2 separate regions of the Homo sapiens genome follow, and region 1 is linked to region 2. The links come from fine-mapping of genetic effects on gene expression. A gene starts in region 2. The other region holds a variant in brackets. All regions are shown on one strand. Distances are between the middles of the regions. Region 1 overlaps ARAP1 (ArfGAP with RhoGAP domain, ankyrin repeat and PH domain 1). Region 2 holds the start of STARD10 (StAR related lipid transfer domain containing 10).

Region 1 (8,332 bases), 62 kb after region 2:
CCAAAGTGCTGGGGTTACAGTCATGAGCCACTGCGCCCGGCCCTCAGTTTGTGTTTTGAGAGGCCGTGAAGAGTGGTTAAAAGTGGATGGCCAAAGGCTGGTGGCTCACGCCTGTAATCCCAGCACTTTGGGAGGCAGAGGCAGGTAGATCACTTGAGCCCAGGAGCTCAAGACCAGCCTGGGCAACATGGCAAAACCCCATCTCTACAAAAAAATGGAAAAATTAGCCGGGCGTGGTGGTGCAAGCCTGTAGTCCCAGGTACTTGGGAGGCTGACGTGGGATAATTGCTTGGGCCCAAGAGGCAGAGGTTGCGGTGAGCAGAGATTGTGCCACTGCACTCCAGCCTGGGTGACAGAGCGAGACCCTGTCTAAAAAAAAAAGTTGAGAGCTACAGTCTCCAGTATGAATAGAGTGTAAGCCACAATGCAATTTAAACAGTCCAAGTGAAATTAATGTTAATAATATATTTCATCATGTAAACAATAGGGAAAATTATTGAGATATTTTGCATTCTTTTTTTTTTTTTTTGTGCTCAGTCTTCAAAATCCACTGTGTTCAAAATCTAGCACATCATATTCCAGGGACCACATTTCAAATGTCCAACAGCCACGTGTGGCTACTGCTGGCTGCTATTGGACAGCACAGGGCTAGACTATATTCATACTGCCTCCTTCTTAGGTGTGTGGCTTTGGAAAGTTGTTTAACCTCCCTTTATCTCAGTTTCTTCACCTTAAAACAGGGATAGCAATCATATGTATCTCCTGGGGCTGCTGTGAGGCTTTAATGAGTTAATATAAAGTACTTGGATACCTGGCATGCAGTAAGCACTGTTTATGTGGTCTCTTTTTCTTGTTTCAAATTGTCGTTTGAGTAGCACTGCCATTTTTGCCAATGCTTTCATCTGAAGTGCTAGCTACTTAAAGGTTGTTTTTTAAGTATTGACTTTTGGGCTGGGTGCAGTGGCTTATGCCTATAATCTTAAGCACTTTGGGAGGTCAAAGTGGGAGGATTGCTTGAGGCCAAGAGTTTGAGACCAGCCTGGGCAACATAACGAGACCCTGTCTTTACAAAAAATAACAAAATTAGCTGGGCACAGTGGCATGCACTTGTAGTTCCAGCTACTCAGGAGGCTGAGGCAGGAAGATTGCTTGAGCCTGGGAGTTGGAAGTTGCAGTAAGCTATGATTGCACTACTACACTCCAGCCTGGGCAACAGAGCAAGACCCTGTCTCAAAAATAAAATAAGGCAAGGTGTGGTGGCTCACACCTGTACTTCTAGCAACTGGGGGGGCTGAGGTGGGTGGATCACTTGAGGTCAGGAGTTCGAGACCAGCCTGGCCAACATGGCAAAACCACGTCTCTACTAAAAATACAAAAATTAGCTGGGCATGGTGATACGCACCTGTAGTCCCAGCTACTCGGGAGGCTGAGACAAGAGAATCGTGCTTGAACTTGGGAGGTGGAGGCTGCAGTGAGCCAAGATTGCGCTACTGCACTCCAGCTGGGGCAACGGAGTTAGACTCTGTCTCAAAATAAATAAACTAAAATAAAATATTTAAAAAATGTATACCTGTTTTAGCCCTATCCTAGGCAGTGATAATCATGGAGTTTGCTTAAGATAAATACCTGTTTATGTGTTTGTAAGATGTAAAATGTTCATGAATACCTACTGAAGCCATTATGCAGAGCACAGCAGTTTTGAAGTTAACCCTAGTGTTGGCAGACCTGACTGTTCCAGGTCCTGGGGAGGGAGACCTGTCCATGCCACTCCACTGGTCCCTAGCCCCACAGAGCTCCGGCTGTCTGCATAGCAAGGGTGGTGGCCTGTCAGGAATATCCTATTCTTTCTCCTCCTGCCTGGAAGCATCCCCTTTTGGTCTGTTTTCCTCAACCTCCCCTACATATTTAGGGGCAGGGCCCTGGGGTCTCATGCCCCTGACTCAGTTACCCTACTTGTGCCCTCAGGCCACTTCATGGTCCCCAGGCTTAGTGGAGAGGGTCCTGTGTCCCTGGGTCCTCTAAGGTCCCCCACCTCTCCTGACAGGCTCTGTGTCAGGGAGACCTCTTTAGTCGCAGGGCTGCATTGTCCCTTCCTCACCCTTCCTGGGGCTGTCCCTTCCACAGTCTGCCCCTACACACATCCCAGCACTGGTCTTGCAGGGCCAGAGAGTGGGGAAGTCCTGACTCCTCTTTACCACCTGTGCAGCCCCCACATCTGGACAGGCCTGTCTGTCTGCCTTCTCCCTCCAGGAAGGCCTTCCTCTGGTCTGACTTCTGTTGCCAGTTTCCATGAGCATGAGGTTCCCCGAATCCTTTCCTCTTCCCTCTTCCTTCTCTTCCTCTTCTTCCACCTCTTCCCCATCTCTTCTTTTTTCTTTTCTTTTTTTTGAGACAGGGTCTGGCTCTGTTTCCCAGGCTGGAGTGTAGTGGCTCAATCACAGCTCACTGCAGCCTCCACCTCCTGGGCTCAAGTGATTCTCCCACCTCAGCCTCCTGAGTTCCTGGGACTACAGGCACACACTACCACACCTGGATAATTTTTGTATTTTTGTTGTACAGATGGGGTCTTCTTATGTTGCCCAGGCTGGTTTTGAACTCCTGGACTCGAATCCACCTGCCTCCCAAAGTGCTGGGATTACAGGCGTGAGCTACTGTGCCTGGCCCCCATTTCTTCTTTCCTTTTCCCTGTCCCTCTCCCTCTTCCCCTCTCCTTCTCTGGCATCTCATAGTGGCCTTGCCTCACGGGCTTTCTCCTCCATCCCTGTCCTTGCAGCTCCCGCCTCAGGCCGAGATGAGGAGCCCTTCAGAATAGCTGCTGTCTCTGGGAGGACCCGGGCGTCCTTGGCAGCCCAGCTGGTGAGTCAGGAGGTGGAGCGGTGGGAACAGGGCTGGCTGTGGCACGCTAGGCCTTAACATTGAGGTCGGGGAAGGCTTGATGGAGGCTGACACCTGATAGCCCATTTTCCATTTTGAGAACTGAGCTTGAGAGGCAGAGGGTGAGGCCCAGAGAGCTTGCTACGAGCCTCCCAGCAGGCCTTGGAACCTTGGAACAGGGTGGGGGTACGAGACAGAGGGACAAGGCAGGGGCCAGCAGGCTGAATTGCAGGTCTGTGTTTATGTATCTCCTCACTGGATTCCCCTCCCTGCCTGGCAAGTTTTGTTCCCTTTCTCATTCTCAGGCTCTATTCATGGTTATCACATTCCCTTTTAATTTTTATTTACTTTTTGGAAAATGATACAAAATTTAAAAGATACAGAAGGGTATAGTGTCTCCTGTCTTCCCAGCTGTCAATTCCCCTCCCCAAACTCAGTTTTATATATATCCGTCCAGTTTTCTGTGTTTATATTTGCATATATATATAACATATGTATATTTTTTTCTTTTTCTTTAACCGAGATGTTTACATAACACTGTTCTGCATCTTGCTTTTCCACTTAACACATCTCTAATATCATTTTATATGAACTTTAGAATCTGCTGGTCTCAACAAATTCCAGCTGGTAATTTTAGTTGGGATGGTGTTAAAGTTTTAGCTTAACCCTGGAGGAACTGACATCTTTATATGTTGAAGTGAAAAGTCTCCCTCTCCTCAGAGGTGGATTTCCAGGGAAGCTGGAGTTTGAGGTGCAGGGCTCCTTCCAGGATCTAAAGAGGGTCCTGAACAGTGTGTGCATGTGGTCATGTGTTTTTGTGAATTTTGCAAAAGTGAGATACTCTTAAGGAGAATGTGTTAGTCTGTTTTGTATTGCAATCAAGGAATACCCTGAGTAATTTATAAAGAAAAGAGGTGTATTTGGCTCAGGGCTCTGCAGGCTGTATAAGCATGGCACCAGCATCTGCTCAGCTTCTGGTGAGGCCTCAGGAAGCTTTTAGTCAGGGCAGAAGGCAAAGCGGGAGCAGGCATGTCACATGGTGAGGGAGGAAGCAAGAGAGAAGCCGGGCTCTTTTAACCAGCTAGCTCTTACATGAACAAATAGAGTGATAACTCACTTGTTACCATGGGGAGGGCACCAAGCTATTCATGAGGGATCTGTCCCCGTGACCCCAGACACCTCCCACTAGGTCCACCTCCAACATTGGGGGTCACATTTCAACATGAAATTTGGAGGGGACAAACATCCAAACCATATCAGAGGGCACTTAAATTGTGTAAGCTTCAGGTCCCATGAACTTCAGGCCCTGTGAACTCTGCATCTTCCACTGTTCCCTCCTGTCCCTTCAGGCCTTAGTTTTCGTCCTAGGAGGAAGCTGATAACTGTTGTCACCTTGCCCTCATGTGTCTTTTCAGAGATACTTTGTTCATTTACCAGTAGCTGCACACTACTCCATGCTCCCCCTTGTTTTTTTCACAGAGAGAGAATGTTACACAAACTGTTCTGCACTTTTCTTTACTCCTTTAACAGTGTATCTTATAGATCATCCCATGTCAATATGTGAGGAGTTTCCTCATTCTTATGGCCGCTCAGTATTCTATTGCACAACTACAACATAATTTAGTTAACTATTCTCCCATTGATGGCCATTTTGGTTATTTCCATTCTTTTGCTATTAAACACAGGCACTGTAGCTAGTAACCTTCTATATATGTCAATTCTGGCAGGTGCCAGTAAAAATGCAGGCTAAGTGCCTATGGGTGGCTGGGTCAGCCATCTGCATCTCTGTTTTTGGGGGAGGCGGGAGGACAAAGTGTCCCCCAGGCTGGAATGCAATGGTGTGATCTCGGCTCACTGCAACCTCCACATCCTGGGTTCAAGCGATTCTCCTGCACCTCAGACTCCTGAGTAGCTGGGATTACAGGTGTCTGCCACTGTGCCTGGCTAACTTTTTGTATTTTTAGTAGAGACGGGATTTTACCATGTTGACCAGACTGGTCTCGAATTCCTGACCTCAAGTGTTGGGATTACAGGTGTGAGCCACCG[C/T]GCCCAGCCCAGACATCTGCATCTCTTAGGGCTTTCATGCCTAGAGGCATTCCACAGCCAGGGAAGGGATGCCCTACCACATCACCAATGCCTGTATTTTCCAACTTTATTGCTCTTTGACAATCTGATAGGTAGAAAGCAGTATTTCAAAATATTTTACATTCATATTTCCTAGTGTGGGGGAGGTTAAGTTCCTTTTCAGATATTTAAGAGCCATTTATATTTTCCTTTTTGTAAATTTTTTCATTCATACTCTTTGCCCATTTTTCTGTTAGATTATTGATCCGTTTCTTATTTCTGCATGCTTTTCAACTTTTAGGAAAATGAGCCCTTTGTGTGGAATATGAGTGGCAGATATCCCCTAGTTTGTTGTTTAGCTCTTGGCTTTGCTTATGGTGCTTTTTACCATGCAAGAGTGCTTGATTTTTGTAGAGTTGAATATTTCAGTCTTTTCTGTGTGCCTTCTGGACTTGTTTCATTTCCAGAAGGCTTTTGCCTCTCTGAAATGATTTTTTTTTTTTTTTTTTAGAGACAGTCTCACTCTGTTGCCCAGGGTGGAGTGCAGTGGTGTGCAGTGGTGTGATCATAGCTCACTGCAGCCTTGAACTCCTAGGCTCAAGCAATTCTCCCACCTCATCCTCACAAGTAGCTGAGACTACAAGTGTGCAGCTGCCTAATTTTTAGGTTTTTTTTTTAGTAGAGACAGAGTCTTGCTGTGTTGCCCAGGCTGGTCTTAAACTCCTGGCCTCAAGCAGTCCTCTTGCTTTAGCCTCCCAAAGTGTTGGGATTACAGGCGTGAGCCACCATACCCAGCCCTAGGATGATTTCGTAAATCCTTTCATTTTTTATTTTTTATTTTTTTTTCTGAAGTGGAGTCTCTCTCTGTTGCCCAGGCTGGAGTGCAGTGATCTCGGCTCACTGTAATCTCCACCTCCTGGGTTCAAGCAATTCTGCCTTAGCCTCCTGAGTAGCTGAGATTACAGGTGCTTGCCACCATGCCCGGCTAATTTTTTGTATTTTTAGTAGAGACAAGGGTTTGCCGTGTTGGCCAAGCTGGTCTCAAACTCCTGACCTCAGGGGATCTGCCTGCCTCAGCATCCCTAAGTGCTGGGATTATAGGTGTGAGCCACCTTGCCCAGCCATGGTTTTTTAAAATACTGAAGTCTTTGATACAGCTGTAATGTTTCTTGTTGTAAAGTGTGAGATAGGGATCCACATTAGTTTTTTTTGAGAGCACTCCACAGCTGTCCCAACAACTTAAGAATCCCTTGTTTCCCCACAAGTTTGAGAGGCTACTTTTAGTGTATCCTAAATTTGTATATGTATTTGGGTCTACTTTTGAACTTTCTGTTCTGTTTAATTGATCTGTCTGTTCATGCACTGTTACCATATACTGTTTTAATCATTGTGGCTTTATAATATGTTTTAACATGTGGTGAGGTTGACTCCTACTCTTTACCCTCCCCGCCCTCCACCCCTGCTTCCAGAATTTTCCTCACTCTTCCTGCTTATTTTTCCACATGAAATTTCAAATCAGCTTCAAAAAAAATTCTGTACATATTTAATTGGATTGTGTACATTTATAAAGTAACTTAGACATCATTAATCTCTTTATGTTGTCTTCTATCCAGAACTTACTGTGCTCTGCCATTTGTCCAGGTCTTCTTTTTGTCCCTCAGTAACACTCCCAATTTTTCTTCCTATCGCTGTTGTTTATCTCTTAGGAAGTTTATTGGTGTTTTCTATTTTGTGATGCTTTTGTAAATGGGGTCTTTCATCCTGGTTTCTACCTGTTTGTTGCTTATAAATGTTGATTTCTGTTATATTAATTTTCGTTTGTTTCTTTTGTTTTTGTTTTTGTTTTTGTTTTGAGACGGAGCCTCACTCTGTTGCCCAGGCTGGGGTGCAGTGGCATGATCTCGGCTCATGGCAACCTCTGCCTCCTGGGTTCAAGCAATTCTCCTGCCTCAGCCTCCTGAGTAGCTGGGACTACAGGCGCATGCCACCATGCCTGGCTAATTTTTTGTATTCTAGTAAAGATGGGGTTTCACTGTATTGCCCAGGCTGGTCTGAAACTCTTGAGCTCAGGCAATCCACCCGCCTCGGCCTCCTAAAGTGCTAGGATTATAGTTGTGCCCGGCCAGTCTGTTATATTAATTTTGAACCCAACTGTCTTACTAAAGTCTTTACTGGTTGTTATAGTTTCTCAGTTGACCTTCTTGGGCTTTCAAACTCAACACTCATATTATTGGCAACAAATGGATAGTTTATCTCTTCCTTTCTGATTTTAAGACCTCTTGTTTATTTTTGTTGTCCAGAGCTTTCAGAGCAATGTGAGGAATAATAATAACAACAGTAAAATGGATATTCTTTTCTCATTTAAGAAAGTATCAATTTATTTCTGTTTTAGTAAGATTTTTGTTTGTGTAAGTAAGCTGGATATTGGGTTTTATCATATGCCTCTTTAGTGTCTGTGGAGATAATCAGATGACTTTTCCCTTTGATCTGCTAATCACCTCTTTTGGTCACCTCTTCATATCACCTCTTGACTCCCACCAGGCCAGGAGCTCTTGATTACAGGGTGCAGGGGTAGAGCCTGAGTCCCCATTGCCTAGTGCCAGGCTATTTTGAAAGAACAAATGGATGAATGGCCTTAGTGATGGGAGGGTTTACCCAATTCCAGGGCCAGGCCCCCAGAGGCCATGTGATGCTGGGTTTACTCACGTCCCACAGCATTTCACTTCCTCCAGGGGCATGGAGGTAGGGGGAGGCTAGTCTCGGCTCCCAGACTGGGCTTGCAGGAGGGACCAGCAGTGGTATCCTTCAATGCTCGCTAAGCCCTTGGCCTGGCCCTCACTGGGAACTGGTGCCTCAGAGGGAATTAGCCCTGCCGTGGGTCTTGCAGAGGGCAGTGGGGAGGAGGTATAAGACACAGCACCAATCATGCCACTGGCCATTCTCACGGCAGTGGCCAAGGCTGTGTGTTGGGGTGTGGGGTGGTACCAACCCCAGAGATCATGGAGGGTTTCCTAGAGAAGAAAACATGAGCTGGATGCTGGGATAGCACAAGGGAAGGGGTGAGGGGGTTCAGGCGGAGAGAAGAGCCTGTGTGTTCAGAGACCTGGCAGTACCTGGCCTTGCTTAGCACATGGAGCACAGGGGAGGAAGCTCCAGGACAGAACTTGAACCTATGGCTTGAGAGAGCCATGCAGGCTGCTGGTGAGGGGACCAATCCTCGGCAGCCCTGCCTCTGACCTGTGCCTGTCTGTCTATTCTAGCTCTGGACAAAGCCCTGCCAGTCAGGCCTCCGCTGGCAGGAACCATGGCAGAGGCTGGGGATGCTGCGCTATCGGTGGCCGAGTGGCTGCGGGCATTGCACCTGGAGCAGTACACGGGGCTCTTTGAGCAGCAT
Region 2 (8,357 bases):
CAATCTCGGCTCACTGCAACCTCCACCTCCCAGGCTCAAGCGATTCTCCTGCCTCAGCCTCCTAAGTAGCTGGGATTACAGGTGTGCACCACCATGCCTGACTAATTTTTGTATTTTTGGTAGAGACAAGTTTTCGCCATGTTGGCCAGGCTGGTCTCGAACTCCTGGCCTCGAGTGATCCCCATGCCTTGGCCTCTGAAAGTGTTGGGATTACAAGCGTGAGCCACTGCACCCGGCCTATTAATACAATTTTGTAAACCAAAAAGTACCTGAGACAGGTCTCTATCAGTTTAGAGATTTATTTTACCATGGTTGAGGACAAACCTGGGAAAGAGACAACAGCCACAGTAGAATCTGTGGCCCATACTTTTTTTCCAAAGAGGAGTTTGAGACCAGGTGGGGTGGTTCACGCCTGTAATCCCAGCACTTTGGGAGGCAAGGCAGGAGGATCCCTTGAACTCAAGAGTTTGAGACCAGCCTGGGCAACATGGCGTAACCCTGTCTCTACAAAAATCACAAAAAATTAGGCTGGGCGCGGTGGCTCACACCTGCAATTCCAGCACTTTGGGAGGCCAAGGCAGGGGGATCACCTGAGGTCAGGAGTTTGAGACCAGCCTGGCCACCATGGTGAAACCCCATCTCTACTAAAAATACAAAAATTAGGCCAGGCATGATGGCTCACGCCTGTAATCCCAGCACTTTGGGAGGCCGAGGTGGGTGGATCATGAGATCGGGAGTTCGTGACCAGCCTGACCAACAGCGTGAAACCTCGTCTCTAAAAAAATACAAAAAAAAAAATTGCTGGGCATGGTGGTGAGCACCTGTAATCCCAGCTACTCAGGAGGCTGAGGCGGGAGAATCTCTTGAACCCAGGAGGCAGAGGTTGCAGTGAGCCAAGATCACGACACTGCACTCCAGCCTGAGCGACAGAGCAAGACTCCTTCTCAAAAAAAAAAAAAAAATTAGCTGGGCGTGTTGGTGTGCGCCTGTAATCTCAGCTACTTGGGAGGCTGAAGTAGAAGAATCCCTTGAACCTGGCAGGCGGAGGTTGCAGTGAGCCAAGATCGTTGCAGTGAGCCACTGCACTCCAGCCAGGGTGACAGAATAAGACTCCATCTAAAAAAAAAAAAAAAAAAGGCAAAACATAATTAAAGTGAGAATTAAAAAAAAATTAGCCAGGTGTAGTGGTGTGTGCCTATAAACACAGCTACTCAGGAGGTTGAGGTGGGAGAATAGATTGAGCCCAGGAGGTCCAGGCTGCAGTGAACAATGGTCTTGCCTCCAGCCTGGGTGACAGAATGAGACCCTGTCTCAAAAAAACAAAAACAAGGCCGGGCACAGTGGCTCACACCTGTAATCCCAGCACTTTGGGAGGCCGAGGTGGGCGGATCACACGGTCAGGAGATCGAGACCATCCTGGCTAACACGGTGAAACCCCATCTCTACTAAAAAAATACAAAAAAAAAAATTAGCCCGGCGTGGTGGCGGGTGCCTGTAGACCCAGCTACTCAGGAGGCTGAGGCAGGAGAATGGCATGAACCCGGGAGGCGGAGCTGGCAGTGAGCCCCAGATCATGCCACTGCACTCCAGCCTAGATGACAGAGCAAGTCTCCGTCTCAAAAAAAAAAACAAAAAACAAAAAAAAAACCACAAACGAACAGCCCCTGCCCTCCCCCCAAAAAAGACAAACTGCATCTCACACACAGGTGACCCCTGTGAATACAGTCTCTGAGGAGTGATGGAAGAGGAAGCCCTGTGAGAGGTGCAGACTGCTACCCTCTAGAACACCAGGATGCCTAAATAGTAGAGGGCAGTTTCATTAGCGACATCAGTTTGCAAACTGAAAAGAGACACTCTCCTGTAGGTACCAAAGGTGCTCTCTCTTTGTATAGGGAAAAGGCAGGCTGGTTGTTTTTTGTTTTTGTTTTTTGAGACGGAGTCTCGCTCAGTCGCCCAGGCTGGAATGCAGTGGTGCGATCTCGGCTCACTGCAACCTCCACCTCCCAGGTTCATGCCATTCTCCTGCCTCAGCCTCCCGAGTAGCTGGGACTACAGGCGCCCGCCACCACACCCAGCTAATTTTTTTGTATTTTTAGTAGAGACGGGGTTTCACCATGTTAGCCAGGATGGTCTCAATCTTCTGACCTCGTGATCCGCCCGTCTTGGCCTCCCAAAGTGCTGGGATTACAGGCGTGAGCCACCACTCCCGGCCTAGGCTGGTTTATGACTCACAGGGTCTGTATTTCACAATAATCATACATATTCAGCAGGTTTTGGGGAAAAGCTATACATATTTATGAGGGGATGTGAGTGCATGCACAATGGGTAAACACCTGTAACATATGTTCCATGTTCACTTTGGGATGGGGTTTTTGCGTTAAAGTGAGGTGGAATTTGGTTCTTTGCATCATAAGGTGGACTATAGGACACAAACACAGTTTGCGTGCAGTCTCTATGAGCTTGCTGAAACTGGCCTGAGGTCTGCAGTTACTTATCAGGAAAGAATGTTTGTAAGGCCTGTCCTCTGTCGATCAGCGTTGTAGTGGTCTGAGTTGTAAATCTCAGTAAAGAAGAGTCTGACAATTTGCATGATAGCTCCTATTGCTAGGGGTTTAGTAAGAGTGTGGTTTTTCTGGCAGCAGTAGAAATTTAAGAAGTTGCCATGCCAGCTGACAGCTGAGCCCTGAGGTAGGCAACGTTTGTTTCCTTAACCTTAACCTTAAGGTCCATCGTAGTTGATAAAAAGGCATCTGGCCAGGCCTGATGGCTCACGCCTATAATCCCAGCACTTTGGGAGGGTGAGGCGGGAGGCCAGCAGTTCTGGGGCCACTGCACTCCAGCCTGACAGACAGAGACCCTGTCTCAAAAAATAAATAAATAAAAAAGATAAAGGGGCATTTGTCTTGATCGCTCAGATCACACAACTAATAAGTAGCATTCTTTCTAAAAGCCGCAACAATGCTACTCCTCTCTTATAAGAGCTACTGTGTAACTCCTGCCCAACTCAAACCCACAGGCCCAGGCTCAGAACACTTGGCTCCATTGCTTCACTGTTTCCCTGCTAGCACGAACCCCCCAAACTCCATCTCCCAACATGCCGCGGGCCCCCTTTCTGTCAGCCTGACTCTTGAGCTCCTGAGAAATGTAGTTTTTCCAGCGGCCCAGCCCCAGAAAGGTCCTAGCCAAGAACTACAGTTCCCATGTGGCAATGCGCGCGCCATTCCGGTGGAATTCACCGCGGTCTCCAGTTTGCCATGATGGATGCCAGAACCTGCACGTGGGGCTTGGTGACGCGATGACTGAGATGCTGGAGTCCCCGGTCAGAAGGACGATGCCGAGCGCGCCGTATTTTCTCCTGCCTCTCCTCAGATCGCCGCCGTTGTTGGGCTGTGGAGACGTCTCAACCAAAGTGGAGCCGACAGAGGCCCCGGGAGCCGTGGTGACAGAGCGGCCACAACCACTAGGGGGCGGGAGGCAGAGCGGCCCCTAGTCCGCCCCTAGTCCGGGACCTCTGGGCGGTCCCGGGCGGGAAGCGCACGCGCAAACGCGGGGCTTCGCGGCCGCTGTAAACACCAAAGAGCGCCTGCGCAAGCCGAGAGTCTCGGGATCGACACGTGGGGGCGCCTGAGCGAAGATAACCGTAATAAATAGTAACCTAACGGTCCAGTCATCGTTCTGTGGTCCTTTCTTTTATGATTCACAAGGAATGACCCTCTTCATCGCCTCTCCTAATTCAGTCCTCACAACAGTCCTTTTACAAATGGGACAACAGGTTAGAGGAAGTCAGGCAGATTTCCAGCATCATAGAGAGTAAAGGACCAGGGAAGGATCAGGATTCAAGGACTGCACCCAGGCTCTGCTTCCAGCTTGCTGTGTGACTTTGGGTAATTTTGTTCCCTTAGGGAACTGAGCTTTCTCATTTGTAAATGCAAACAGGCTGTTGGGAGGATCAAATGAGATCCAGGGGTGAAAACAGCTTAGTTTACTTTCAGGAATTTACCCACGCGGTATATAAAGGCAAAATATTATTATAGTCAGGTGATTGTAGATTGAGGAACCCATTTCCTCATTCTGCAAATTGCAAACCTGAGGGCCCAAAGAGGGACAGGGGCTTGCCCCAGGTCTCAGCAGGCTGTGAGCAAGAGCTAAAGCCTAATCCTCCTGCCTTTGGGCCTGGAGCCCTTCCTTGTACCCCAGGGGTCAGTGTCTTTGTTGGATACAGGCTTAGATTGACTGACTGTACCCTGAGAACCTAGGGGAGTCCCTGTTCCCAATTCTTCTCCTACCCCCACCTTGGCCTGATGGAGGAAGACCCTGCTGTGTTGAGATGAGCACCAGAGCCAAGAAGCTGAGGAGGATCTGGAGAATTCTGGAGGAAGAGGAGAGTGTTGCTGGAGCTGTACAGACCCTGCTTCTCAGGTCAGTGGCCCAAGTAAGGGAAAGAACCCAGGTGTGACAGATGAGGGGGCAGCACTAAGGGGACAGACTCTGAATGGAAAGGAGTGGGAAGGCAGTGGACACTGTTTCTGAGCTTGGGAGGAATTGGGTACTCAGGTAACTCCATCTGGGGGCAGTGGAGCTGGAGGTGATACCTGGGCTGGCCTGGCTGATGAGAAGGGGAAGTGATGCGCATTGAGCTGAGGTCTAGGAGCCACTCCCCAGCCAGGTGAAGCGAGGTGGCACCTAGGCACACCATGGCACCTGCAGGATCATGCAGCTAACCCCAGGGAAGGGGACTTTTCTCTGACCCTTGGAGCGGTGGAGCTGGGCTGTATGCAGCTGATTCTCTCTAGAGTGCTCTTAGAGGTTTTGGGGGTAGGTTGGGGGAAGGGCTGGGAGACCCTGAGGTCTCATTACAGATTGGGCCTCCCCAGGCAAGTCATGAAAGGCAGGTATATGTAGAAATAGAAATCCAAGATCCTTCAAGATATCCCAGATAGGCCAGGCACGGTGGCTCACGCCTGTAATCTCAGCACTTTGGGAGGCTGAGGCGAGCGGATCACCTGAGGTTGGGGGTTGAGATCAGCCTGACCAAAGTGGAGAAACTCCATCTCTACTAAAAATACAAAAAAAAAAATTAACCGGGCGTTGTGGCGGGCACCTGTAGTCCCAGCTACTCGGGAGGCTGGGGCAGGAGAATGGCGTGAACCCGGGAGACGGAGCTTGCGGTGAGCCGAGATGGCGCCACTGTACTCCAGCCTGGCTGACAGAGTAAGACTCTGTCTCAAAAAAAAAAAAAAAAAAAAAAAAAATTAGCCAGGTGTGGTGGTGTATGCCGGTAGTCCCAGCTACTCGGGAGGCTGAGGCAGAAGAATCGCTTGAACCCAGGAGGCGGAGGTTGTCGTGGGCCGAGATGGTGCCATTGCACTCCAGCCTGGGCAACAAGAACGAAACTCCGTCTCAAAACAAAACAAAACAAAACAAAACACAACAACAAAAAGGTATCCAAGATAATTCAATGGAATTATCTGGAGGTGGATCTTGGATTCACCTCCAAGCATTTAATTATCTGGGCCTTCACTTATCATTTCTGTTTTTCAGCCAGAGAAACTGAGGCTAAAGAAGGAAAAGGACCTCTTTTTTTTTTTTTGAGACGGAATTTCACTCTTGTTGCCCAGGCTGGAGTGCAAGGGTGCGATCTTGGCTCACTGCAACCTCCGCCTCCTGGGTTTAAGCAATTCTCCTGCCTCAGCCTGCCAAGTAGCTGGGATTACAGGTGCCCACTACCATGCCTGGCTAATTTTTTGTATTTTTAGTAGAGACACGGTTTCACCATGTTGGCCAGGCTGGTCTCAAACTCCTGACCTCAGGTGATCCATTCGCGGCCTCCCAAAGTGCTGGGATTATGGGCATGAGTCACCACGCCCGGCCAGAAAAGGACTCTATTAAGGACACACAAGGAGTTGGGGTAGAACTGGACTACGACAGGGATCTTTCCATTACATGGCAGTAGTCAAACATCTTCATCAAACATTTATTTAGTGTCTAATGTATACTCCGAGAAGGACTACCTTGGGGTAGCAAATAGAAGCCAGGATTGCCCTCAGACCTGGCTTTTAACCAGCCCTCCCAGTGATTTAAGACTGTGACCCCAGGTGAGTCCCTGCCCCTCTCTGAGCCTCAAATTGTCTGTAAAGTGGGGATGCTAAGCCTTGGGACTGTCTCAATGTTTACCTATAAATTAAATGAGTTAAGACCTGTTATCAAGGTTTACCTATAAATTAAATGAGTTAAGACCTGTTAAGTGCATAGACCAGCACCAGGCCCGTGGTAAGCATTCAGTAACTGTTAGCCACTGTTGTTACTTGTGAACACAGGTCGAGGCAGGCCGCAGATGGGGTTCTCCAAAAGTCAATGCAGGGGCAGAGAAGCAGCAGCCCCAGGTCTGACCATCTCTAGATACCTCCACACCCTGCCCTGGGTGCCTGCATTTCTGAAAGTCAAGGGAGGACCCATGTCCCCATCTCCTCCTCCAGTTCTGGGAAGCTGGCAGGGGAGAAATGTCTCGAGTGTTTACACCTGCACATGCACATGATTCTCTTCCCCACAACCTGAGGCCAAGAGTGAAGATGGTTTTTACTCAAAGCTACACATTACAGCCCTGGACAGTCAGACCAGAACAAGATCCTGGGCTCTTTCTGGCCCTTTCAGGGTGTGGGGTTGTGCATGAGCTTCCTCCCTGCATGGCAGAAGTCCATGAATGCTAACAGCAGGTTCTTGGTCCTCGTTTCCCCTCATGGAGCAGGGGCTGGGGGAAGAGGGGCGCCTGGGTGGGAGACAGGGCCTGACATCAGATACCCCCCCGGCCCACCTTGTTAGTAGTTGGAGGCCTGGCCCTGTGCTCACTTTAGCTCTGTTTCAAGCTTCCCTAATGGAAGTCTGGTTCAAACTCCTTATTTATAGAGGAGGAAAGAGAATCCCAGAGAGGCCAGAACTCACTGAGAGCCCCACGGCGAGGTAAGCGTGAGTCTGGTCCAGAACTCAAGCCTCCTGACTTCAGGTGAGGGCTCTGCCCACAGCCACATGGGAGGGGGCAGGGCTTGATTCCACCTCTCCTCCCCCCACTACCCTCATAGTCATGCTTGGAGCCAGCTCCCAATGTAGCCACCTGGGTGGGCTGTGGTTTGCAGGGAGGGTTGGGAAGATGGAGAGGTAAGGGAAGGAGAGTACAGGGCCCAGTCGGGAGAAACCCAGGGCCGGTCTGGGGCGAGTGGGGCCGAGAGCTCTCCTTGGTGTGCGTGTGGCTGCTGCAGGATTGTGGGGCCTTCATCAGTCTGAGGCAGCAGAGGATGCAGATCCTGTGGGAGCACATTCCTGGAGGAGGGGAGCAAAGCAGGCTCAGAGGAGTGAGTCACGGAGCCCAAGCCCTAAATTTAGAAGGTGCTGAAAGAGGCAGTCTTCCCCCGGGAAGCCTGTGGAGATACCTGCTGACCCAGAACACCAGGGACTCACGGCAGGGAGCAGTGGTTGGCAGGAGTCCCCAGATAGCAGTGCCCATGGAAGCTGAGCCTGCTGCAGGCCTGTTCCAGGTGTGGGTTTGGAACCTAGGGTGAACCTTGACCCAGGGCAGAGCCTTCAGCCCCATTCTCAGACAGAGCCCCTAGAGAATTCCACCCACACCAGTCCTCACGCGGTCCTGGGAGCCAGCCCCTGGAATGTGGACCTCTCAGTGCCATGCTGCCCTCTGGCTAGACATGGCCAGACCCCCTGTGCCTCACTGCTGTCCCAGCATGCAGCTGTCAGACATTGAGGAGGGGCTGTGTGGGTGCAAGGAGCAAATGCCATTGACACCAGGCCTTTCGCAGCTCTGCTTGGATTGGGGGTGAGGGAGGGGGACAAGATGTCATTTCAGCTACCTCTCTTCCCTCTCAACCCTCCAGGCTCTAGGTTAACCCCACTCAGGAGAAAGAAATCATTGCCTCCAGACTGAGGAACAAAGATGTAGGACAGAGGCCAGGCCTCGGAGACAGATGCCAGACCTGGCGGAAGGAAGCTCAGGAACTGAGAACTGATAGTAGCTGTGGCAGTTATTGAGCACTCACTGTGTGCCAGGCACTGTGCTAAGCACTCCACGGGATTAACTCACTTCATCCTCATTGTCATGACAGAAATTCTATTAGTCCACCCAACTTAGATGGAACAACTGAGGCCAGACACAATGGCTCACACCTATAATCCCAGCACTTTGGGAGGCCAAGGCAGGAGGATTGCTTGAGGCCAGAAGTTCGAGACCAGCCTGGGGAGACCCCATCTCTACAAAAAATTACAAAGTTAGCTGGGCGTGGCAGTGCACACCTGTGGTCCCAGCTACTCAGGAGGCTGACGAGAGAGGACCACTTGAGTCCCAGATTTCAAGG

The links. PIP is the estimated chance that this variant, and not a neighbour inherited with it, causes the effect. A credible set is the group of variants that fine-mapping cannot tell apart.
Region 1: its variant is the best candidate, but not a certain one, in a credible set for the expression of STARD10 in sun-exposed skin (GTEx, PIP 0.53).

Annotation. Positions count from the first base shown.
Region 1 is chr11:72,727,039-72,735,370 of GRCh38, reverse strand. It overlaps ARAP1 (ArfGAP with RhoGAP domain, ankyrin repeat and PH domain 1), which reads left to right. Exons shown (of 35, transcript NM_001040118.3): 2 at 2,774-2,856; 3 at 8,199-8,332. The coding sequence starts at 8,243. Among named protein-coding and RNA genes, the nearest start is that of ARAP1, 21 kb to the left of the region's middle. RefSeq lists an enhancer at 5,553-5,622. The variant C/T (reference allele first, on the strand shown) is at 4,921.
Region 2 is chr11:72,788,937-72,797,293 of GRCh38, reverse strand. It overlaps STARD10 (StAR related lipid transfer domain containing 10), which reads left to right and starts at 3,247. Exons shown (of 7, transcript NM_006645.3): 1 at 3,247-4,419. RefSeq lists enhancers at 2,922-3,491, 4,623-5,122.